Linked DNA regions of Homo sapiens: region 2 is linked to region 1. The links come from fine-mapping of genetic effects on gene expression. Tissue or cell type: whole blood. Region 1 holds a variant in brackets; the other region holds the start of a gene. All regions are shown on one strand. Distances are from middle to middle.

What was found. PIP is the estimated chance that this variant, and not a neighbour inherited with it, causes the effect.
Region 2: it holds the start of ERP27, and the variant in region 1 is fine-mapped to the expression of ERP27 in whole blood (TOPMed, PIP 0.95).

The regions. Positions count from the first base shown.
Region 1 is chr12:14,956,654-14,964,761 of GRCh38, reverse strand. ARHGDIB (Rho GDP dissociation inhibitor beta) reads left to right here and starts at 3,161. Exons shown (of 6, transcript NM_001175.7): 1 at 3,161-3,225. RefSeq lists enhancers at 3,339-3,458, 4,709-4,818. The variant A/T (reference allele first, on the strand shown) is at 3,208.
Region 2 is chr12:14,935,355-14,943,462 of GRCh38, reverse strand. ERP27 (endoplasmic reticulum protein 27) reads left to right here and starts at 4,926. Exons shown (of 7, transcript NM_152321.4): 1 at 4,926-5,048; 2 at 5,411-5,511. The coding sequence starts at 4,955. ARHGDIB (Rho GDP dissociation inhibitor beta) reads left to right here. Exons shown (of 6, transcript NM_001175.7): 6 at 742-1,432. The coding sequence ends at 941. RefSeq lists an enhancer at 5,411-5,470.

The DNA.
Region 1 (8,108 bases):
ATAAAGGTTAAATCAGACTATTATGGAAATAGAAAACATATAAAGAGAATGCTATGAAAGTCCAGCAGAGGCACAATGATGGTAGGCTAGGGTGCTAAACAAGGAGGAGGTAAGAAGCTGTCAGCAGGTTATTCACCGAAAGTGGAGCTAACAGGATTGCCCCATGCTTGGCCAACTTCTCTTTCTCCATTCCTTCTGGGTGAATCCATCCACTTACATAGTTTAAACCAGTGTTTCTAAAACCTCAAAGTTTACCTGCAGAGCTTTTTAAAACATAGATTTCCAGGTCCAACCTCCGGGAGAGATTCTGATGTAGGAGGTTTGGCCTGAGACTTTGCATTTATTTCTAAGGAGTTCCTGGGTGATGGTAGTCTGCTGGTACACAGGCCACACTTTGGGTGTCCTGGTTTAAATTACTATCCATAGTCTGATGATATGTAAATTCAGGCTTATATATTTCACTATCTTTCAGAAATCATCTCCAACAAACGACACCATTTTTTTTCAAACTCAGGACTAGACACGTCCAAACGTATGTCCTTATTTCTCCTAATACATCTATTTCTTCTTTTGTATTCTCTATCTCACTTGGGGGTACCCCCAAGGACCCAATCATTCTAGCAAAAAAATCCAGAAGTCATTCCTGATTCCACAGTCCTCCTCATCCTCATCCTTCACATCCCACCAATTACCAGGGCATGCCAATTTCACCTAAATATTTCTCAAATCTGACCATTTCTGTCTATCTCATTATGAGTGTTCAAGCCTAAACAGTCTCCTAATAGATTTTATTCACATCAAATCCAACCACATCAGTTTGCCAGAGTAAACTAAGTGAAATGCAAAACAATCATGTCCATCCTTTACTTTCAACAGTTCCCCATCACTGATAGGATCTAGGCCGAGTTCGTTATTAACATGGCATAAGAGGTCCGTGGTGATCTGAACACTGTGCCTGCCCTGCTCTAGGTATATTTCTCATTCACATGTAACTTCCACTTTACATTCCAACAATCTTGAGCTGCTTGCTTATAATACCCTGCATATCCCACATCATTTTGGGAGGCCAGGGCCGTGTTGCTGCTCATGTTTCTCCTCTACCTCGAGTGCCTTCTCTTTCACTCCCAACCCTTCGCTCATCAACTACTCAAAACCTACTCTCCCTCTTAACTGAGCGCAGTGGTCACTTCCTCCAAAAAGCCTTCCTTGATGTCCTTACATGTACTCTCAAAACACACCATGTATTTTTTCTTTTCCTATGCTGACAAAAAAAAAATTAAATTTGTCTGCTTCTGTCTTCCCCATTACATCTTTTAGCTACTTGAGGTCTAGGACTGTGTCTTGTTTATTTCTGTACCTTTCCGTGGCTCCTTGCATATGACCAGGAATTAAGTATATTTTGATAATTGGAGTCCTTTTAGAACTTTCTAAAATTATGAATGCTCTCTCATCCCCCAATAAATACATTAATCTATAATACAAATCTGTAAAATATGTATTGATTTTACAGATTTTTCTGGGAAGGGGTGCTCCCATACCCTCCGATATACACTGGGCTCTGGAGGGAAAAAAAAAGCCAGGTTTGCCTAGTGAGGTGTTCCCTAATAACATGAGAAATGAGTGGTGGAATAGAGACCATGCATTTACCATTTTTCATTTTTAAATATTTCTTGTTACAATTAATGTATTCTGCCTGTGTTATTTTAATTGTCTCCTAGGTACAACATAAGTTCCACAGGGCAGCAGAGATGTCGCCTGCGGTCTATTGCTGCACAAGGGAACTAGAACAGTACTTGAAAGAAAAGAGGTGCTCGATAAATGTTATGGAATGAATAAATGTATCCCCTCTTGAGGGTGCAGAGCTATAGAATGTGTAAGTTACTGCCTTCTGTGTAAATTAGGGTTTGCTTTGTTTTTACAATAAAGTTATGTACATTGTTTCAAGGGCTGTATTCTGTCTATGCTATTTTAAAATTTATAGAATAAAGTGGTATTAGGCTTTTAGTATTTTTGCTCATTTTAATTATATACTATTTTCCTTTTCATATTTTTCTAGGCTAATCTCTTCTCACGTGAAATGACTCCCTTGATTATTCCGATTTCATTGACTCTAAGTAGAAGGCAAACCCTGTGGTATCAATTTACAAAGGGAAATGAAGAAGATGCAGTACATTTAGGTGAAAACAAAATAAACGTCAGTTTCTCCAAATTTGTGTGCTTAGTCAGATCTAAATATATTGATGTAGTGTAAATACTGAATATTGAAATATTAACCTAAATAAGCATTTATTATTGGTAACAGCTACGGGAATATACAGCATGAATGTGACTTGGCTGCTTAAAAACTGTTCCTCAGATGGTTTAAACATGGCCTCCGAGACTTGTTCCCATTTAAATTACTTCATAAACCATTTCCTCAAATATGGTACAAAGTCTATTTTGGCACTTGTTAAGTTGTCACAAATTCTGAGTTGGAAGACTATGAATTAATGAAGTTTTACTTCCTTTTGTAATTTCTTTCCTAGGTTTCATCAAAGACAGTACTTTCGCTTGCTTGTTTGTTTCATTTGAAGAAAAATCAGCCAAAACTATTAAAAACAATATTTGACTGTTTGTAGTGCAATACAAAGCTACGTCTTGAAATTATAACCAACAAAACTCCAAAAATCTGTTTAAGGACACATTTTTAAATTTAGGACCGTAGTATATGCAGTTAACAATCATCATTTCTTAGCACTCTACATTCACTGCCAGCAAACTTTCAACGTATCTGGTTGATAATGAAGCTGGCGGGGACCCAGTGGGAACAGAAGTGAGTGGTACAAAGTAAAGCCGATGTGAATTTATTGCTACTGGTTTCAGGCTCCTTACCTCCATAGGCTTATGCACTGCAATGACCTGATTATCAGAAATACCCTCACAATTATTCATAATACCCATAGCTATAGGCTCCACACTCTTGCGTGTACATTCATGCATCTCCACGTCACACGGGCTGTCATGCTCGCACATGTGCCATTAATTGACAAGAATGCTGCTCAAGTTGGCTGATCAAGAGATAGGCAGTGCAAAGGAACAGGATTTGAGACAGCCCAGGGTTTCCTCTTCAAGTAGGTCTAAAACATTTTTTTTTCTCATTGACTTCCTTCCTGTTCTAACTGCCAGTACTCAGAAGTCAGAGTTGAGAGACAGAGGCACCCCGGACAG[A/T]GACGTGAAGCACTGAATGTAAGTTCAAATACCTCGGGCTGGGGAGGCTTCAGGTGGGCACAGAGCAAAGTCGGAAACCTCTAGACGGGGCTACCGCCCTCGACAGTTTATTATTTTTTTAGAGGGGCAGTTCTTCTTTAAAACAAACTTTATGATAAGAAATTGCTAAGGAGGCTGCAGAGAAGGGGAAGTTAGAGGAGGGAAGGGTAGCAGTGACTCAGGGGAGGAGGCTTAAAAAAGGAGGGTACAGGGTGCGCTGCAGCCCAGGAAGTGCAATCCTGAATATTCTCAGAAGGGCTCTGAGAACACGCACCGGGAGTGCCTGGAGGGGTTTCCTGCAAAGTAGGAGCAGGCACCTGGCCAGGCTTGGAAGAAAAAGACTGTAGATCCAAAATGATACGGTCTGTGCTGGTGGATGGTGGGTTGTGCTGGGGTGGAGATATGTGGTTTCCTGTTTTTAAGCAGACAATGTAAAAAGACTGGTTGAAAGAGAAAAAAAAATGGTTCAAAGCTGTCAAATATTAAACTGTCTTCCACTAAATAATTTTCTGGTGATATAAGAGAAATGCATAATGAAATCCTCCCTTAGAGTGCAGGGGCTTTATCCCTCAAAGAGGAAGTATGGTATAGCACATTGTTATGTACTCATGAGTCATACAGTGATAGAATTTCTACCACTGACAAAGGCTGTGTATTAAATTCCTGCAGTCGGATGGGCAGATCTTTGCTGTTGTTGTCAAAAATAATAATAGGGCTGGGCGTGGTGGCTCACGCCTGCAATCCCAGCACTTTGGGAGGCCGAGGCGGGTAGATCACCTGAGGTCAGGAGTTCAAGACCGGCTTGACCAACATGGTGAAACCCCATCTCTACTGAAAATACAAAATTAGCTGGGTGTGGTGGTGCATCCCTGTAATCCCAGTTATTTGGGAGGCTGAGGCAGGAGAATCACTTGAACCCAGGAGGCAGGGGTTGCAGTGAGCCAAGATCACGCCATTGCACTCCAGCATGGGCAACAAGAGCGAAACTCTGGCTCAAAAAATAAAAATATTAATAATGATAATAGCCCTTTAGGTATGAGATAACTAACAGCAAACATGGAAAACACCAAATAACGTATTAAGAGACAGGTTTGAGAAAAATTCAAGGGGGCCCAGCTAGGACAGCTGATCAGTGGGCCTTCAAAATGTCAAGGTCTGAATTTCAGCCACCATTAGGAGAAGTGCTTTAGGTATGACCTGAAATACTTTCTTCCCTTTTAGAGGACTTCCCAGCCAGCATGTTTCATAAACATAATCTGTAATTAAACTCTAGACCTATGGTAACTTGAGGTGTGTGTCTGGCAAGCCCTGGGCAGTTCTTCATTCAGAGTGGGGAAAGGCAGACTGCTCTCACCCGGAGGGCTCATGGTCACCACTTCACATGGAGACCTAGAGCCCCTGGAGTCAGGGTTGGCCTGGCCATCTTCACTGCAGGGATGGTCAGGCACAGGAGATCAAGAGGACCATGGCACCTGTTGGTCCGGAGAGACAGGGGGCAGAGGTCCAGTCCCTAGCAGGCATCGTGAATCTTGCCATTGGCTTTGTGTTTTTTTAATTTGTAAGAATATATTCCCTCCCAAAGCAGATATAGCACAAGCTTAGTAACAAGAGCATCTTACTCTTTTGTGAGATGTGTGAAATTCTAAGAGACAGTTCTTTCTCCATCCATGCTTCACAGATGCAAAACCTGAGGACTAACTATGCTGTCACTGAACAGAAACTGGCAAGCATTTTTCAGGCCTCGACTGGAATTTGGTCCTTCCTTGCTTTGGAGAGCATGAGTTTGTCCCCTAGGGAAGTTAGCTCTGAGCAACATTAAGGTTCTGTTTTCAGTAGACACTCAGCACCACAAAGTCATTCTGAGGGAAAGATACGGGTCTGAGCTGATTTGGGAGAGCACAGTACATGACAAACATCAGCTAGCAGGAAAAGAGAAGCCCTGGGGAGTCGAAATTATGCAGATAGAAAAGGAGAACCAACATTCATTGAGTGCCTTCTATGTGTCAGGCCTGGTGATAAAAACTTTCAAATTTTGTTCCTGAGAAGAATGCAGAAGTGTTCAATAATTTGACTAAAATTACATACTGATACAAAAAGGATCAATAGCCACAATGCCTCTGAATTGCAATTCACAGGGCATGGTGGTGCGTGCCTGTGGTCCTACCTACTCAGGAGGCTCACGTGATCCTCCCGCCTCAACCTCCCGAGTAGCTGGGACTATAGGCGCGCATCACCACGCTGGCTAATTTTACCATTTTTAGTAGAGACGGGGTTTCTCCATGTTGCCAGGGCTGGTCTTGAATTCCTGGGCTCAAGCAATCCGCCTGCCTTGGCCTCCCAAAGTCCTGGGATTAAAGGCGTGAGCCACCATGCATGGCCTATTATTATTTTTTTGAGACAAGTCTCACTCTGTCACCCGAGCTGAAGTGCAGGGGCGTGAACGCAGCTCACTGCAGCCTCGACCTCCTGAGGCTCAGGTGATCTCCCACATTCTTTAGGAAGAATCACATGGAAGAAATTTTCTCCAATTCCATATTTTGAGAGTTCTTATTCCTGGTTTGTGTTATTGCTGCCCGGGATCCTGTATTCAAGGCTACACTGGCATACCCAGAGATGAGTCTCATGTTGCCCCTGAAACGTCAGCAACATTTATCTGTGCAATAAGCACATCCTGAATCATCCTGTGTTGTGTTACTCTCTGGTGTCCACAGCCAAAGAGTGAATTTTACCGCTGGTAAAAATTCACTTGGGCTTTCTTAAAGAGCCTAATAATCTTAGCACAAACGGTCATAAAAAAAATTCTCTCTCAATTCTGTCTAACTTTTCATGCTAATTTAAAACTTTTGTGAATATATTGAGATACTGAAGGCAATGGCTTCCTTAATGCACAGTTTTCTTTGAGAATTATTTAAAATAATATTTGTGAAGGTACTTGGTGGCATGACTTCACACGTTGGGCACTCAGCAAAGCTCACGGGATCTCTTTGAGTTCTCTCTCTTTGTGCATATGAATGTGGGTTAGAAAAACACACTAAAAAATGCACAGGCAAGAAATAATAAATTGTTTCTCTCACAAAGACAAATGGTAAGAAATTACGTTTCTAGTAATTTGTGCCCTTCTCTGGATTGATTACAATATTTATTGTCTCTTACAAAATAATCTTGTCTTTGGTTTTTCTCATCCAGTTTTGAAGTTTTCGTAGTCCTTCATGGGGCTGAGGTGGTAGAAAGCAGCACCGCAAAGTGGGGAGTATGGATTCCTCCATGTCACCAGGGACAGGGGCGGTGGGGAGAGGGTGGAATCCCGAACCAAGAAGGCTTCTGGTGTCCTGAGAGACAAATTTGCAATCCCGTAATACACCAAATTGCCAGGCAAGCAGCACAGCACATTCAAATCCTTGACTAGCTCTGAAATGTCAACAGTGTTTTAGAGATGGCCTGACTCTCCAGACCTGCACTAGACCCACAGCCCGATTTGGGGGAAGTCAGACATATCCTAGTCAGCAGGGAAAGTGGAGGTAGCAGGAGTTACAGAGAATGCTGATGCTCACATAGGAACTTCTCTGATAGAAATCCCCTACTTCTGGTATTTCCACTTTTCTCTCTCTCTTCCCTCTCTCTCTTTCTCCCTTCTCCCTCCTCTCTCTCTCCTCTTTCTCTCTCCCTCTTTCCCCTCTTCCTTCTCTCTCTCTCATCGCTATCTCTTCTACCTAATACATTAATATCCATGGCCTGTGTGTCTAGATGCATAATCCAGCACAATTTTGCAGATCCAGCTTTGGGCCGTGAGTTAAGTCTCTGTGGTATTTTGCTCCAGAGCCAGAGGGAATTCTCTTCATTAGCTGTGCCTGTGTTCACTGACATTTCTCATCATTCGCAGAGTGACCTCTGGCTTCAATGAAGACAGGGAGCAATAAATAAAACCTAAAATTAAATTGTTTACATGAAAGTTTTTAAAAGAAATATAATATAGTCTCATTTTAAGGTTGATTCAGTTTTTAAACAATCCTTTCAATTCCCCAGAACTTCTTATCTCTTTAATACTCCTCAAAGACAAAAATCTATTTTTAAGGAGGAAGGAGTGGGGACATAGCTCCCATCCAGGGGAAAGTATTTGGTGTGGAAACAGTTACCTAGCTTCAGTGAAGCTTTGCAACAAAGCAGACCACACTGGGGCAGGGAAGGAAGAAGAGGAAGGGAACAAATATTCACGGAACATCTATTCTTGACCAGTATAGTCCTATAATTTTTCATGTGTTTTCTCCAATCTTTCAACCCCGTAAAAAAGAATATCCCCATTTTAGTGGTGATAAAACTGAGGCTCAGTGAAATTAGCAACTTGATTGAGTCCTGTCATAATGCAGAGCCTGGTTTTGAATCCCTGGTCCATCTGACTCAATCTATGTTCTATGAGACATGAAAGTCACCTTTCTCTGAATTACCCAGGTAATTTGTTTAATCTAAACTCAGGAGTTCTACCTTTTCTTGTCCTCAGTTCATTTAGAGCTGCATTAATGAAACAGATGATGCTCTATCCTGACATGGGTGTAAATTTTTAAGTGTAATTCACTTTCAAAGTCTTGGAAATTTCACTGAATTTGCAAGCAAAAACATTGATGTGTGCTATGTCATATGCATGCTGTGAGTAACCATCCTAATTTAATTCGACATTTTAATTGAGCCTGAGAAGATTAAGTCCCCATCTCAGCACATCTAATGCTTGCCAGTGCTTTGCTGAGTAGCAAACATGAGGATGTGAGGCCTCCAATGTGAAAGTTAATCTGTATGCGCATCTGTGAAGCAGAAAATACAGAAAACTAGAGTAGCAAGCCTGTGTGAAAAAATGATATGTGCTTTGGGGC
Region 2 (8,108 bases), 21 kb after region 1:
TCTCAATTTGTCTGAGTTTTTTAAAATGGTGTAATCTGCTATATCTCCATAAAAAAAACAACAACAACAACAAAAAAAAAAAAAACAGGCTTAATCCCCATTGATTTAGGCCACTGGTTCCCCAACTTTACCTCAGAATCAACTTTGTAGTTTTTTAAAAACACTGATCCCTGGGACCCACAGAAGGTTACTGAACCATAGCCTTTGGAAGTAGGACAAAGGAAACTATATTATTAAAAGGCACTCCAACTTAAAAAATGTTTTAAAGAATAATTTTTTTAAAAAGATGCCTCAGGGCCAGGTGCGGTGGCTCACACCTGTAATCCCAGTACTTTGGGAGGCCGAGGCGGGTGGATCACCTGAGGTTGGTAGTTCGAGACCAGCCTGACCAACATGGAGAAACCCCGTCTCTACTAAAAATACAAAATTAGCCAAGCATGGTGGCGCATGCCTGTAATCCCAGCTGCTCGGGAGGTTGAGGCAGGAGAATCACTGGAACCTGGGAGGTGGAGGTTGTGGTGAGCCGAGATTGTGCTTCCGCACTCCAGCCTGGACAACAAGAGCAAAACTCCATCTTAAAAAAAAAAAAAGATGCCTCAGGTAAATCTAATGTTTATTTAGGCTTGGAAACCATTGCTCTTGACTTTAATCACTGTAGGCTGTAGTCCAGATTCTCCAGTTTGCAGTGTATGTTTTTCCTCTATCAGGCTCTTACCCTAATGAACTCTTCTTTCTTCTTAGTGGATAAAGCAACATTTATGGTTGGCAGCTATGGACCTCGGCCTGAGGAGTATGAGTTCCTCACTCCAGTTGAGGAGGCTCCCAAGGGCATGCTGGCGCGAGGCACGTACCACAACAAGTCCTTCTTCACCGACGATGACAAGCAAGACCACCTCAGCTGGGAGTGGAACCTGTCGATTAAGAAGGAGTGGACAGAATGAATGCATCCACCCCTTTCCCCACCCTTGCCACCTGGAAGAATTCTCTCAGGCGTGTTCAGCACCCTGTCCCTCCTCCCTGTCCACAGCTGGGTCCCTCTTCAACACTGCCACATTTCCTTATTGATGCATCTTTTCCCACCCTGTCACTCAACGTGGTCCCTAGAACAAGAGGCTTAAAACCGGGCTTTCACCCAACCTGCTCCCTCTGATCCTCCATCAGGGCCAGATCTTCCACGTCTCCATCTCAGTACACAATCATTTAATATTTCCCTGTCTTACCCCTATTCAAGCAACTAGAGGCCAGAAAATGGGCAAATTATCACTAACAGGTCTTTGACTCAGGTTCCAGTAGTTCATTCTAATGCCTAGATTCTTTTGTGGTTGTTGCTGGCCCAATGAGTCCCTAGTCACATCCCCTGCCAGAGGGAGTTCTTCTTTTGTGAGAGACACTGTAAACGACACAAGAGAACAAGAATAAAACAATAACTGTGTGTGTTCTGGCTGAGACCTTCATTTCCCTGCTTTCTTGCTTTGAACAAATATGATAACTGGATGGTTCACATTCATGAGTTCCCTCAGAGGGGATGGGGATGAGGAAAACACACTGGAGGAGATATTTACATCTTTGGGAACAAATTGGTCCCCTATTACACTATAATAGGCAATGCACATTCAGAATACAGCCAGTGGGAAATCTACATTTTACTTATTTAGTTAGCTATTTTTAATTTCGACTTTTATATTAGGTATAGAGGGTACATGTGCAGGTTCGTTACATGGGTATATTGCATCCAGGTAGTGAGCCTAGTACTAAATAGATAGTTTTTCAAAAAATGCCCCACTCCCTCCCTTACCCCTCAGGTAGTCCACAGTGTCTACTGTTTCTATGTTCATGTCTATGTGTGTTCAGTGTTTAGCTCCCACTTATAACTGAGAACATATGGAAGTTGGTTTTCTGTTTCTGCATTGCTTTGCTTAGGATTATGGCCTCCAGCTTCATCCATATTGCTGCAAAGGACATGATTTTACTTTTTTATTATGACCATATAGTATATCATGGTATATATGCACCACATATTTTATCCAATCCACCATTAATGGGCAACTACATTAATTCCGTGTCTTTGCTATTGTGAATGGCACAACAATGAACATACATGTGCATGTCTGTTTGGTACAACAATCTACTTTCCTTTGGATATATACATAGTAATGGGGTTGCTGAATCAAATGGTAGCTCTGTTTCAAGTTTTTTGAGAAATCTTCAAACTGGTCACTCTCCATACGTTCGTAAAAATATTATGCCTTGGAATGCTAACGTTACTCCTAAAAATTGGAGTACTCTCCTTGGCCTTACTGTAGAGATAAAAGGTATAGATGTCCTCATTACTTAGAGTTGCTTTCCACAGTGGCTGAACTACGTAACTGCTTAAGCTACATCCCCATGAATAATGTATAAGCATTCCCTTTTCTCTGCAGTCTCACAGTGTCTGTTGTTTTTTGATTTTTTAATAATGGCCATTCTGACTAGTGTGAGATTGTATCTCATTTTGGCTTTGATTTGCATTTCTCTGATAATTAGTAACGTTGAGCATTTTTTGTAGGCTTATTGGCCTCTTGTGTGTCTTCTTTTCAGAAGTATCTGTTTATGCTCTTTGCCCATTTTCTATTGGGGTTATTTGTTTTTTGCTTCTTGATTTGTTTAAGTTTCTTATGGATTCTGAATATTAGACCTTTGTTGGATGCATAGTTTGCATATGCTTTCTCCCATTTTGTAGATTGTCTATCAATAGTTCCTTTTGCTCTGAAGAACCTCTTTAATTAGGTCCCACTTGTCAATTTTTGTTTTTGTTGCAATTGCTTTTGAGGACTTAGCCAAAAATTACTTGTCAAGATTAATGTCAAAAAGAGTATTTCCTAGGTTTTCTTCTAGGACTTTTATGGTTTGAGGTCTTAAATCTTTAATTCATCTTGAGTTAACTTTTTATATGGTGAAAGATGAGGGTGCAGTTTCATTCTTCTGCATATGGCTAGCCAGCTATCACAGCACCATTTATTGAGTAGGGAATCCTTTCCCCATTGATTGGTTTTGTTAACTTTGTCGAAGATCAGATGGTTGTAGGTATATGACTTTATTTCTGGGTTCTCTATTCTGTTCCATTGGTCTATGTGTTTGCTTTTGTACCAGTACCATGCTATTTTGGTTACTGTAGCCTTGTAGTATAGTTTGAAGTTGGGTAATGTGACGCCTCTGTTTTTGTTCTTTTTGATTAGGATTGCTTTAGCTAGTCAGACTCTTTTTTGGTTCCATATAAATTTTAGAATAGTTTCTTTTCTAATTCTGTGAAGAATGACGTTGGTAGTTAGATAGGAATAGCACTGAATCTGTTAATTTCTTTGGGCAGTATGGCCATTTTGAAGATACTGATTCTTCCTACCCATGAGCATGGAGTGTTTTTTCATTTGTGTCACCTCTGATTTCTTTCAAAAGTGTTTTGTATTTCTCCTTGTAGAGATATTTTACCTCCTTGGTTATCTGTATTCCTAGGCATTTCATTTTATTTGTAGCTATTGTAAATGAAATTGTGTTCTTGATTTTACTCTCAGCCTGGACATTATTGCTGTATAGAAATGCCACTAATTTTTGTACACTTATTTTTTTCCTGATACCTTACTGAAATCATTCATCAGTTCCAGTAGCCTTTTGGCAGAGTCTTCAGAGCTTTCTAGGCATACAATCATATTGTCAACAAGGAGAAATAGTTTGACTTTTTCTTTTCCTGTTTAGATGCCTTTTATGTCTTCCTCTTGCCTAATTGCCCTGGCTAGGGCTTCCTAATTTCTTTTGTAATATTTTCACATGAAAATTCTCCTAAGCTTAAAACTACATATCCCAATGCCTGTGGAAATCTCATCTTGGACTTCCTCAGACACTTGTGAGCAAAATCAAACTTCATCTCATTCTTCTGCTTAAGACTTTTCAGTGGTTCCCATCACCTACAGAATAAAATTGATGCTCCCGCGCTTAGTGTATCATATAAAGCCTGCTGTGAGCTGGTCCCAACATGCCTTTCTGTCCACATGTATCACTTCCTTCCTTTTCATCATTCTCAATTACTAGTAATTCTGTCACACATTATATTTGCATATCTGTGCTTTGGTTCTTTTTTTTTTTTTTTTTTTTTTTTGAGACGGAGTCTCGCTCTGTCGCCCAGGCTGGAGTGCAGTGGTGCTATTTCGGCTCACTGCAAGCTCTGCCTCCCGGGTTCAGGCCATCCTCCTGCCTCAGCCTCCCGAGTAGCTGGGACTACAGGCGCCCGCCACCACACCTGGCTAATTTTTTGTATTTTTAGTAGAGATGGGGTTTCACCATGTTAGCCAGGATGGTCTCAATCTCCTGACCTCGTGATCCACCTGCCTCAGCCTCCCAAAGTTCTGGGATTACAGGTATGAGCCACCACGCCCGGCCTGTGCTTTAGTTCTTTACATGAAACTCCCTTTCTACCTTGTGTTGCCTGGCAAAATCTTACTTACCCAGAACTCTGCTCCGGCATCCTCCGCAGGAAGAACACTTTCATTGAACCCTAGCATTGTCCCTAATACCCTTAATATGTATTGTCATAGCACCCTATGAATTTTTCTATATCACTTTCCATCTTATATTTAAATAATCTTTTTACTTGCCCATCTCTCCCACTGATAATCTAAGCTGGCAGAGGCTGGATCAGATCATAATTATCTTTCTATTCTTAGCGCTAGGATCAATGCCTGGCATAGCATATTTACATTTTTTATTTAAATAAACTGACCTGACTTTCTTCTGGTTGGATATGTTCTGAGTCCCTATTACTAACCTTGGTCTTTTATCTCAGAAGTTGAAGGCTCCCCTGGAGCCAGCTGCAAAGTTCCCAAAGCCCTAACAACCCCACAGCCAATCAGCTACAGAGTAGGCTGCCCTGAGTCGGCCTCCCCAACACAAAGTCCAGGGTTGGAGCAGGAGCAGGAGAGGGACAATGGAAGCTGCCCCGTCCAGGTTCATGTTCCTCTTATTTCTCCTCACGTGTGAGCTGGCTGCAGAAGTTGCTGCAGAAGTTGAGAAATCCTCAGGTAAAAGAAAAATGTAGTTGGGTGGCTATAGTGTGAAAGTGTTATTAGGAGAAGGAAAGGGAGCATGGTGGTTCTCTGGGTACTTTTCCTCCACACCTAGAAAGCTTTCCAGGAAATCCTGGATAAGTGCATTTTGCCTGGTAGAGAGTAGGGAAGTCTGGCAGTATCCTTCAGAGACAGACCATCAGTAGGGTCACCTTCCATATGTTAGTAAAAATATTATGCCTTGGAATGCCAACAGTACTCCTATAAATTGTGCTCTTCTTGCCCTTAGTATAGAGATAAAAGGTATAGATGCCCTCATTATTTAGAGCTGCTTCTTCTTGCCTCAGTACCCTGACATCTTCTGCTTCTCTCTCTAGATGGTCCTGGTGCTGCCCAGGAACCCACGTGGCTCACAGATGTCCCAGCTGCCATGGAATTCATTGCTGCCACTGAGGTGGCTGTCATAGGCTTCTTCCAGGTTAGTTCCCTACTTGCAATTCCCCCAAGAGCCAGAAATGTTCTACCTTAAGGGAACCACAGCAGCCACCTGCTGCTGGCAGATGGCACTGCATTAGAAGTGGGGGTAAAGGGAGACAGCCACCCAGTTTGATTTCATCTTGTCCATTGGGACCTCTTATTTTCAAGACATTCCCAGTCTCTAAATTATATCTTTCTCATACTTACTTCAAGAGTTCTGAGCCTGTGGGCTGCATCTCCTCATCTATGGATGCTTTGAAGCTCAAGTCAGTATCTGCAGAAAGAATGCCTTCATGGAACCCCACCATTGTCCTAAACACATTTGGTCTATACTCTCATAGCACCCTATGAATAGGCAGGGGCCAGAGTGAACCCAATTTATATCATCCAGCAACACTGTTTACAGGATGCCAAACATCCTGGACATTAGTCAGTGCACAGCCTTTTAAAGCCTTTCCCCCAAATATGGTAGACTCTCCTTCTTTCTCTTTGCCTTGTCTGAAATGTTGGAAAATGATGGCATTTTGTATATTCAAGGTGTTAACCTCCATCTTCCAGATTAGCTTCTTGACTAAGAAAGGCAGCCATAAATGAGACTGCCTCATTCCAGCATTTTCATCTTTCTCTGGTGGTAGCATCTGGAAATCCTCACAGCTGATCAAGCCCCTACTCTCTCATAGCAGACCTTCTTGTCTGTTTCCATTTCTCAGTTACAACTCCTGATTACCCTGTCAGTTCTGCGTACACAGTTGGAAATCACTGCAATGAGATGCAAGTCAGGGAGAAAGACAGGGACAACATTTTTCAGGAATGAGAAATCTGAGCTGTAGACAAAAACACCGTCAGAAAGATGGGGAAGGGGCAAGAGCATGGAATTGGAGGAGTGTGCAATAACTTAAACAGCCGCCAGATGCCATCATTTTATCCTCCAGCAATTCCATCTGAAGGAGCAGAATAAGAGAGGAGGCCTCAATTAATTATTGTTCATGGCCTCTAGAAGAGTAGATACCAGCTCCCTCTGCTTGACCCCAGATGCAAGACGGGTATGTTAGTTTCTTCTCATGCTGCCAATAAAGACATACCCAAAACTGGATAATTTATAAAGGAAAGAGTTTTAATTGAATCACAGTTCAGCATAGCTTGGAAGGCCTGAGGAAATTTACAATCATGGCAGAAGGAACCTCTTCACAGGATGGCAGGAGAGAGAATGAGCACAAGCAGGGGAATGCCAGACGCTTAAAAAACCATCAGATCTTGTGACTCATGCACTATCACGAGAACAGCATGGGGGAAACTGCCCCCATGATCCCATTACTGCCACCTGGTCCCACCCTTGACATGTGGGGATTATGGGGATTACATTTAAAGATGAGATTTTAGGTAAGGACACAGCCAAACCATATCAACTGGCCATCTTCTTTTCTCCTTGCACATCTCCTCCTTCAGCCTGGGGACTTGCAGGGTAGAACATGTTTGTTCCTGTTAATTTCCTGGAGCTGCTATGGATAAAGGTCCCGTGAGAGCAGGGAAAATGATGCCAGCGTCTATGGAAGGCCTGGAATCACTGTTCGCAAGTGGCTTCTCTGCTGCCTCCTGCAGGCCTGGGCTGCAGAGTTGAATGCGTGAACAGCATCTTCATGTGCAAAGCTCAGGTTTATCTACAGTGGCAAGAGAGGGACTGTCCTTCCATAACCTGCATAAACTTTTGTTAAAACTTCTAAGCTTTCATTTTAATTGTTTTATTTTTCTTCTTTTTTTCTTTTTTGGCCCTTTTGATGGCGTCTATTTCATATTTTTGCATTTTTTCCTTTCATCCACAAATGTAACCAAAGCCAAAACTCAAGAGGAAGAGCCGGTGGGAGGAAAAGCCAGTTTATTTGAAGATCCAGTAAACCAAGAAGACAGCGGACTAGCATCCTAAAGTACATCTTGGCCGGGCACAGTGACTCACACCTGTAATTCTAGCACTTTGGGAGCCTGAGGGAGGTGGATTGCCTGAGCTCAGGAGTTCAAGGCTGGCCTGGGCAACATGGCAAAACCACATCTCTACTAAAAATACAGAAAAAATTAGCCAAGTATGGTGGTGAACACCTGTAGTCCCAGCTACTCAGGAGGCTGTGGCACAAGTATCCGTGAGGCAGAGGTTGCAGTGACCCAAAATTTTGCCACTGCACTCTAGCCTGGGTGACAGAGCAAGACTCTGTGTCAAAATAAATAAACAAAGTACATCTTAAGCCACTACCAATTTTAGGTTCTTTGTATGTTAAGGGCAGGGTGAAGAGGAGGGAGTTGGGATCAAGTGATAACCGGCAACCACAGGCATCTGGGCCCCAGCAAGTGTCTCAGGAAGTTGGGAACTTCTTTGTCCTTGGTCAGGTCACAAGGCACCTATAAATCTGTAGCACTACATAGTTAGTTGTTTACATACTTTTCCTTTAATCCCAGAGTTAGTTTTAAAAACTATATAACTCCTATTTTTGCCTATTATCTCAGTGCTCTAAAATTATTCTAACCTACATGCAGGAATGAGTAAATAAATGCCCTTTAAACAAAAATAGAGTTGGTTATGTTAGTTTGTTTGCTATTTCACCGTTAAAC